Linked DNA regions of Homo sapiens: region 1 is linked to region 2. The links come from fine-mapping of genetic effects on gene expression. A gene starts in region 2. The other region holds a variant in brackets. All regions are shown on one strand. Distances are from middle to middle.

Region 1 (4,315 bases), 52 kb after region 2:
TGTTATATAAGTTCTTAATTTTCTCAATGACTACAAAATAGTCCATGTATTTACTTAGCCATTCTACTATATTTGGACAGTCTATTGCCAATTTTTTGCTATTGTGGAATAATAGGTTAGAAATGTTTTTCTTTGTACGTGAAGTTTTTGCTGTATTTAGAATTATTTTCTTAGGATAGATTACTGGAATGGATTTATGGGTCAGAGTATGAACAATTCTAAGGTTCTAGAGCCCTTTAAATGGTGTGTACTAATTAATAACTTCATAAGCTCAAAGAGTTCCCTGTACTTAGTAGTAAGAAATAATAATAGGTTTTGGGCCAGGTGCAGTGGCTCCTGCCTGTAATTCCAGTGTTTTGGGAGGCTGAGGCAGGCAGATCATGAGGTCAAGAGATCAATACTAGCCTGGCCAACATGGTGAAACCCCGTCTCTACTAAAAATACAAAAATTAGCTGGGCGTGGTGGCATGCGCCTGTAGTCCCAACTACTTGGGAGGCTGAGGCAGGAGAATCGCTTGAACCCGGGAGGTGGAGGTTGCAGTGAGCTGAGATCACACCACTGCACTCCAGCCTGGTGACAGAGTGAGACTCCGTCTTAAAAAAAAAAAAAAAAAAACTTCCTTTTGCGGGTGGCGGCGAACGCGGAGAGCACGCCATGAAGGCCTCGGGCACGCTACGAGAGTACAAGGTAGTGGGTCGCTGCCTGCCCACCCCCAAATGCCACACGCCGCCCCTCTACCGCATGCGAATCTTTGCGCCTAATCATGTCGTCGCCAAGTCCCGCTTCTGGTACTTTGTATCTCAGTTAAAGAAGATGAAGAAGTCTTCAGGGGAGATTGTCTACTGTGGGCAGGTGTTTGAGAAGTCCCCCCTGCGGGTGAAGAACTTCAGGATCTGGCTGCGCTATGACTCCCGGAGCGGCACCCACAACATGTACCGGGAATACCGGGACCTGACCACCGCAGGCGCTGTCACCCAGTGCTACCGAGACATGGGTGCCCGGCACCGCGCCCGAGCCCACTCCATTCAGATCATGAAGGTGGAGGAGATCGCGGCCAGCAAGTGCCGCCGGCCGGCTGTCAAGCAGTTCCACGACTCCAAGATCAAGTTCCCGCTGCCCCACCGGGTCCTGCGCCGTCAGCACAAGCCACGCTTCACCACCAAGAGGCCCAACACCTTCTTCTAGGTGCAGGGCCCTCGTCCGGGTGTGCCCCAAATAAACTCAGGAACGCCCCGGTGGAAAAAAAAAAAAAAAAAAAGTGATCTGGCTGGACAAACTGAGCCAGTCCCACACAAAATCTTAAAAAAAAAAAAAGAAAAGAAATAATAATAGGTTTTTAAAAATCATTATTTGCCTATTGGAGAGGTAAAAACAGATTTCTTTATCTTAATTTGTATCACTTTGATTATTAATGAGGCACAATATTTTTTCCTGTATGTTGTATTTCCTATGTGTACCTTGCTGGGCTCAGGTGGTCCTCCCACCTTAGCCTTCCAAGTAGCTGGGACTATCTAAATTGTAGTCACTGTGTTGTATTTCATTATCTGAATTGCCTGTTCATTTTCCTCATGGGATAATAATACTAGGAAGAGCCCCGGTGCGGTGGCTTACGCCTGTAATCCCAGTACTTTGGGAGGCTAAGGTGAGTGGATCACGAGGTGGGGAGATCGAGACCATCCTGGCCAACATGGTAAAACCCTGTCTCTACTAAGAATACAAAAATTAGCTGGGCATGGTGACGCATGCTTGTAGTCCTACCTACTAGGGAGGCTGAGGTAGGAGAATCGCTTGAACCCGGGAGGTGGAGGTTGCAGTGAGTTGAGATCACGCCACTGCACTCCAGTCTGGTGACAGAGCGAGAATTCATCT[C/CA]AAAAAAAAAAAAAAAAAAAATTAGTTGGCTGGGCGTGGCGGCTCACGACTGTAATCCCAGCACTTTGTGAGGCCGAGGCAAGCGGATCACAAGGTCAGGAGATCAAGACCATCCTGGCTAACACGGTGAAACCCTGTCTCTACTAAAAATACAACAGGGCCGGGCGCGGTGGCTCACGCCTGTACTCCTAGCACTTTGGGAGGCCGAGGCGAGCGGATCACGAGGTCAGGAGATCAAGACCATCTGGCTAACAGGGTGAAACCCCGTCTCTACTAAAAACACAAAAAATTAGCCGGGCGTGTTGGCGGGCACCTGTAGTCCCAGCAACTCGGGAGGTTGAGGCAGGAGAATGGTGTGAACCCGGGAGGCGGAGCTTGCAATAAGCCAAGATCGAGCCACTGCACTCCAGCCCAGGCGACAGAGCGAGACTCCGTCTCAAAAATAAATAAATAAAATAAAATAAAATAAAAATAAAAAATAAAAATACAACAAATTAGCCAGGCCTGGTGGCGGGCACCTGTAGTCCAGCTACTTGGGAGGCTGAGGCAGGAGAATGGCCTGAACCCGGGAGGCAGAACTTGCAGTGAGCCGAGATCGCGCCACTGCACTCTAGCCTGGGCAACAGAGTGAGACTCCCTCTCAAAAAAAAAAAAAAATAATATAATAATTAATAATAATAGGAAGAAACCTTTATATATAGCTCTTTATTTTCTTTTCTCTTTCTTTCTTTCTTTCTTTCTTTCTTTCTTTCTTTCTTTCCTCTTTCTGTCTGTCTGTCTGTCTTGCTCTATTGCCCAGGCTATAGTGCAGTGGTATGATCTTGGCTCACTGCAGCCTTGAACTCCTGGCTTCATGCAATCCTCCCACCTCAGCCTCCCGAGTAGATGGGAGTACAGGTATGTGCCACCATACCCAGCTAATTTTTGTATTTTCTGTAGAGCTGGAGTCTCATGAGCCACCATGCCCAGCCTGCCTTACTTCTTCCTTTCCTTCTTTCCTTTCCTTTCCTTTCTTTCTTTTTTCTGAGACTATCCCGTAGAACCTTCCATGACCTGCCCCACCTGTCTTATGTATAATGTTCATGGTGTTGATATCATGATAGGTGTTCCTAGATGTGATGGTATCTTTCTTTCTTTCTTTCTTTCTTTCTTTCTTTCTTTCTTTCTTTCTTTCTTTCTCTCTTTCTTTCTTTCTTTCTCTTTCTTTCTTTCCTTTCTTCCTTCCTTCCTTCCTCCCTCCCTTCCCTTTCCTTCCCTTCCCTCCTTCCTTCCTTCTTTCCTTCCTTCCTTCCTTCCCTCCCTCCCTCCTTCCCTCCTTCCTTCCTCTCTCTCTTTTTTTTTTTGAGACTGAGTTTTGCTCTTGTTGCCCTGGCTGGAGTGCAATGGCGTAATCTGGGCTCACTGCAACCTCCATCTCCCGGGTTCAAACAATTCTCCTGCCTCAGCCTCCTGAGTAGCTGGGATTACAGGCACCTGCCACCACGCCAGGCTAATTTTTTATATTTTTAGTAGAGACAGGGTTTCATCATGTTGTCCAGGCTGGTCTCAAACTCCTGACCTCAGGTAATCCACCTACCTACCTTGGCCTCCCAAAGTGCTGGGATTACAGGTGTGAGCCACTTGGACCCGGCCCCTTCCTCTTTCTCTCTGTCTCTCTCTTTCTTTCTTTTATTTTTTATTTTTATTTTTTGAAATGGAGTATCACTGGCTGGGTGCGGTGGCTCACGCCTGTAATCCCAGCACTTTGGGAGGCTGAGGTGGGCTGATCACGAGGTCAGGAGATGGAGACCATCCTGGCTAACATGGTAAAACCCCGTCTCTACTAAAAATACAAAAAAAAAACCCACCCATATTAGCCGGGCATGGTGGCAGGCGCCTGTAGTCCCAGCTACTCCGGAGGGTGAGGCAGGAGAGTGGCGTGAACCCGAGAGGCTGAGCTTGCAGAGAGCTGAGATCGCGCCACTGCACTCTAGCCTGGGTGACAGAGCGAGACTCCGTCTCAAAAAAAAAGAAAGAAAGAGAGTATCACTCTGTCCCCAGGCTGGAGTACAGTGGCACGATCTCGGCTCACTGCAAACTCTGCCTCCCAGGTTCAAGCAATTATCCTGCCTCAGCCTCCTGAGTAGCTGAGACTACAGGCTGCACTACCACGCCTGGCTAATTTTGTATTTTTAGTAGAGACGGAGTTTCACCACATTGGCCAGGCTGGTCTCGAACTCCTGACCTCATGTAATCCACCCGCCTTGGCCTCTCAAAGTGATGGGATTACAGTCGTGAGCCACCGCACCTGGCGTACAGTAGAGCTTCTTTCAAAACTGGAACCAATCCTCTCAAACCCTGCCACTGCTTATCAATTAAATTTATGTCATATTATAAATCCGTTGTTGTCATTTCTTTTTTTTTTTTTTTTTTGAGATAGAGTCTCACTCTTTTTGCCCAGGCACT
Region 2 (4,366 bases):
TCAGATACTTTTGCCTAGGTGTTTAAAATAACAGGAAAGCCATCATCTTAGTTAAATACATGTACTAAATAGAGAAAAATACATGACAGCCACAGTTGGAATTTTGATGATAAAATGGTAATTTTAACATAAATTGAATAGCATATTTAAAAAAAAAATCTCTGAAACAGTCATTCCAGTGGAACCAAGGAACTGTAGACCTGGCTCGCAGAGGGAGGGAACTTTGCTTTTAAAGGGTCCTGGCTTAGTTGCATTAGTTACTACAGACACCAAACACTTGGATGAAGTTGTTATTAGGATTTACTTTAGGGCCGGGCACGGTGGCTCACACTTGTAATACGAGCACTTTGGGAGACTGATGCAGGTGGATCACCTGAGGTCAGGAGTTTGATACCAGATTGACCAACATGGTGATACCCTTTTTCTACTAAATACAAAAAATTAGGCAGGCATGGTGGCTGATGCCTGTAATCCCAGCTACTTGGGAGGCTGAGGCAGGAGAATCACTTGAACCTGGGAGGTGGAGGTTGCAGTGAGCCAAGATTGTGCCATTGCACTCTAGCTTGGGCAACAAGAGCAAAACTCCATCTCAAAAAAAAAAAAAAAAAAAGAAAGAGAGAGAGAGAGATTTACTTTAGCTTTGTGCAATGTCTGTTATTAAAAGCCTTTGGTGGCCGGGCACGGTGGCTCATGCCTGTAATCCCAGCACTTTGGGAGGCTGAGGTGGGTGGATCACAAGGTCAGGAGATTGAGAACATCCTGGCTAACATGGTGAAACCCCGTCTCTACTAAAAATACCAAAAAAAATTAGCGTGGTGGTGGACGCCTGTAGTCCCAGCTACTAGGGAGGCTGAGGCAGAAGAATAGCGTGAACCCGGGAGGCGGAGCTTGCAGTGAGCCGAGATCGTGCCACTGCACTCCAGTCTGGGCAACAGAGCGAGACTCCATCTCCAAAAAAAAAAAAAAAAAAAGCCTTTGGTTCAGTTTTATTTGTTTTCTGTGTTTAAGCAAATAAACACCCAGTGTTTTCCAAGAGCATTTTGACTCTGGGCTGCTCTCCAGAGAAGCAGGATATAAGCTTGTCCACAAACCCAAATGAAAACAAAGGGCCCACACAATTGCCACGCATCTGGTGACCAGACAAGTTCACTAAATCTCAGCTGGGGTGGAAGTTCCTTGAGACCAGGGAATTTGAGTCACCTTGTAACCCTAAACAAAGCCAGGCATAAGTTGGATGCTTACCATATGTTAGTTAATTGAAAGAAGGAAAAACAGAGCACTGCACTGATAGAGAACAGTGACTGTGCACCTGATGTGCCGCAATGTGGTTTGGTGTTAAAAAAAATCACTCTCATTCATTACTAGTAGGAGTTCAAATGGGAACCACAGTTCCAAAAAAGCAATTTTGGCAACGTGTAATGACAGCCTTAAAACTATAAACACAAAGATGTTCCCTGCAGCCTTATTCATAATTTTTAAAAATAAAAAACAAACTAAACATCTAATAATAGGCTATGTAATCGTCCAGTAGCTCTAGTGGATGGACTATTACATTATTATAATTATTCAAATTAATATTTTCCCGCTTCTTCCCTGCTTTCCTTCAAGAGGTGGGGGAGGCCACCTGGCCCAAGCTGAAGGCCAAGATACAAGAAAAAAATGCAAAGGTTCTATTTTGGCAGCGTTTACATGGGCAGGGTGTCGTGGGGAGGCTGGCGGAGGGAGTGGGAGCAGGTGACAGAGAATATAGGGTAAGTTAGAAGGCTCTCAGTGCTGGTAAAAATAAAATAGAGTAAAGTAAAGGGTGGGGGTAGAGTTGAGGGGGGCGTGATCAGATTTCTGTTCAAATAGGATGGTCTTTTTGCTGTGAACTTAAGACTGCTCTAAGGCCAGGCGCAGTGGCTGACGCCTGTAATCCCAGCACTTTGGGAGGCCGAGGCGGGCGGATCACAAGGTCAGGAGATCGAGACCATCCTGCCTAACACGGTGAAACCCCGTCTCTACTAAAAATACAAAAAATTAGCTGGGCATGGTGGCACACGCCTGTAGTCCCAGCTACTCGGGAGGCTGAGGCAGGAGAATCGCTTGAACTTGGGAGGCAGAGGTTGCAGTGGGCTGAGATCGCGCCACTGCACTCCAGCCTGGGTGACAGAGTGAGACTCCGTCTCAAAAAAAAAAAAAAAAAAAGACTGCTCTAAAAAATAAAGTGTATTAAAAAGAAACTACGATGTTCAGTGTATGCTTCATCTACGGTCAAAGAGGCAAAGACTGAAGTGACAGTGGAAGCCAGGTGGTTATCTGGGAGGCTTACAAGACTATGTGATAGTATGGAAAATACTAGTATTAAGTGAAATGCTGGATGCAAAACTATGCATAGAGGGGAAAAACTGGAAAGAAATAGTAAACACAGCAAAAGTAGTTTGTGTGAAGGATAAATTTTTTAAAATTATTTTTTGTAGAAACAGGGTTTCTCTACATTGCCCAGGATGGTCTCAAACTCCTGGGCTCAAGCGATCAATCCTCCCACCTCGGCCTCCCAAAGTGCACAGGTGTAAGCCACCGCGCCCAGCCGAAGGATAAGGATTTTGGGTGGTGCGCTCTTTTCTCCTTTCCATTTCTGCATTTTCCAATTTACCTTTAGCGACCGTTCTTTCCTGTTAAAAAAAAAAAATTCACGACCTTGAAGAAGATACACGGGCTATGACTTCGCTGTTGTCACCGAGCGCCCCGCCCACCGCGTTCTCCGACCCGCGGCCGGCAGGGGGCTCGCGGCCTCCGCCAGGCGTCCTTCGGCTCCGTCAGTTCCCACAGGGCCTTGTGCGACATGGGCTGCGCCGAGGGCAAGGCAGTGGCGGCGGCCGCCCCAACGGAGCTGCAGACGAAAGGCAAGAACGGCGATGGCCGCCGTAGGTCAGGTACGACCGAGGGCGAAGGCCTGGTCCCCAGGTCGACGGGCCGAAGCGGGCCTTCCGGCCGGGGTTGGGGATAAAGTGCCCCGGAGCCCTGGCCTTGAAGCCCCTCACTGGAGTCAGTGACTGACCGCGCGCCACGCTGGAGACCCCAGAAACGCTCCCCCAGGTCACCCCGGGAGACGGAGGCCGGCGGCCGGCCGAGGGCTGCCCCGCCCGCTGGCTGTGAGAGAGGTGGGAGGTGGAAGGAGGAGCGGGCCCGCCGCGAGGACCTGCCCGGAAACCTGTCGGAAACCGAACCGAGATCTCGGCAGCGACCCGCCTGATTTCGCTCAGGGCCCGTTAGGGCGTCCTCTTCCTACAAGCACCGTGTTTCCAATGAAAGGTTACGGGGGAAGCGACCAAACCGACAGCCGAGTCCGGGGGTGCCCCTTCACCTCTCCAGAAGCCCCCGGCCCACTCCCAGCATCCTCCTCCATCGAGAATCTTGTCCGACACGCCTTCCCGGCCCCCTTTCTCCATCCCCTTGAATTTTGGGCACATTTCTCCCACCATCATCCCGCTTTATCCTTTCACTTGTTCTTCCAGAAGAGAAAGCTCCCAGTCTCTTCTCCATTGTCCGGATAATGCCAATAATGGCTAGTGGTTACTAAGCACTGACATGAGAGGGGCCTTTGGAAGCACTAGACATGGGTAATAATCTTGGTTCATGTTTCCAGCCATACTGAGAGATTTATCATAAACCCCATTATACAGATGAAGAAACTGAGAAGCAAAGAGGTTATAAAACTTACCCAAAGCACACAACTAGTAAGTGGAAGAGCTGGGATACCAGTTGAGGCCATCTGACTCAAAAGCCCTGGTCATAGTCATATGGCCGCCTCCACCTTTTTTATAGGCTTGAGAAAGTGAGGCTCCAAAAAGTGCCTTGCCCAATGGCTAGAATTATTAAATGCTGTAGGATCTGCCTCTTTCAAAGGCTTACAGTTTAGTTACAAGGCAGCATATGGTGAAGGGCTAAAAGGAGTGGTAAAAACAGCCAAGTGGGGATGGCAGCTCCCATAGATGAGGTAGGATTTGGTAGAGGTGTCTGAAGGGAGAACATTCTTGTTAGGGGAAGCAGCCGGTGAGACCATGCTAGAGATAGGGAGGCCTGTATATCCTGCTGGAGTTAAGGACTTGGATTAGGGGAAGGGAAGAATAAAGGAACAGGGTAGGAGCAAGGTCAGGCAAGGTCCAGGTCAGGCAGCTAATTTGTGGCCATTAGTACAATGAAGGAGTTTGAGCAGGTGCATCCCAAATTGACGTTTCATGTGCCATCCTCAGGATCTTCTTGATATCTATGTCCTTCCATTTATTTACTGTTTTTCTTTAGCTACATTCTTTTTGTGTGTGGTTAAAAAAAAAAAATTTACCATCTTAACAATTTTGTTTTTTTTTTTTTTTTAGTTTCGCTC

Direction of the effects. Positions count from the first base shown, and alleles are read on the strand shown. Sizes are in standard deviations (SD) of each study's normalised expression.
As copies of C replace CA in region 1, the expression in transverse colon of the gene that starts at base 2,801 in region 2 goes down (large effect, 1.0 SD a copy in CEDAR).

Evidence for each region. PIP is the estimated chance that this variant, and not a neighbour inherited with it, causes the effect. A credible set is the group of variants that fine-mapping cannot tell apart.
Region 1: its variant is the best candidate, but not a certain one, in a credible set for the expression of TXNRD1 in transverse colon (CEDAR, PIP 0.78).

The regions. Positions count from the first base shown.
Region 1 is chr12:104,264,654-104,268,968 of GRCh38, forward strand. All of the region lies in intron 3 of TXNRD1 (thioredoxin reductase 1), which reads left to right. The region is part of intron 1 of TXNRD1-AS1 (TXNRD1 antisense RNA 1); the gene reads right to left. It also overlaps the pseudogene RPL18AP3. Among named protein-coding and RNA genes, the nearest start is that of TXNRD1-AS1, 14 kb to the right of the region's middle. RefSeq lists an enhancer at 1,693-1,862. The variant C/CA (reference allele first, on the strand shown) is at 1,871.
Region 2 is chr12:104,212,979-104,217,344 of GRCh38, forward strand. It overlaps TXNRD1 (thioredoxin reductase 1), which reads left to right and starts at 2,801. Exons shown (of 17, transcript NM_001093771.3): 1 at 2,801-2,915. The coding sequence starts at 2,825. RefSeq lists enhancers at 2,577-3,193, 3,194-3,809 and a silencer at 2,664-2,753.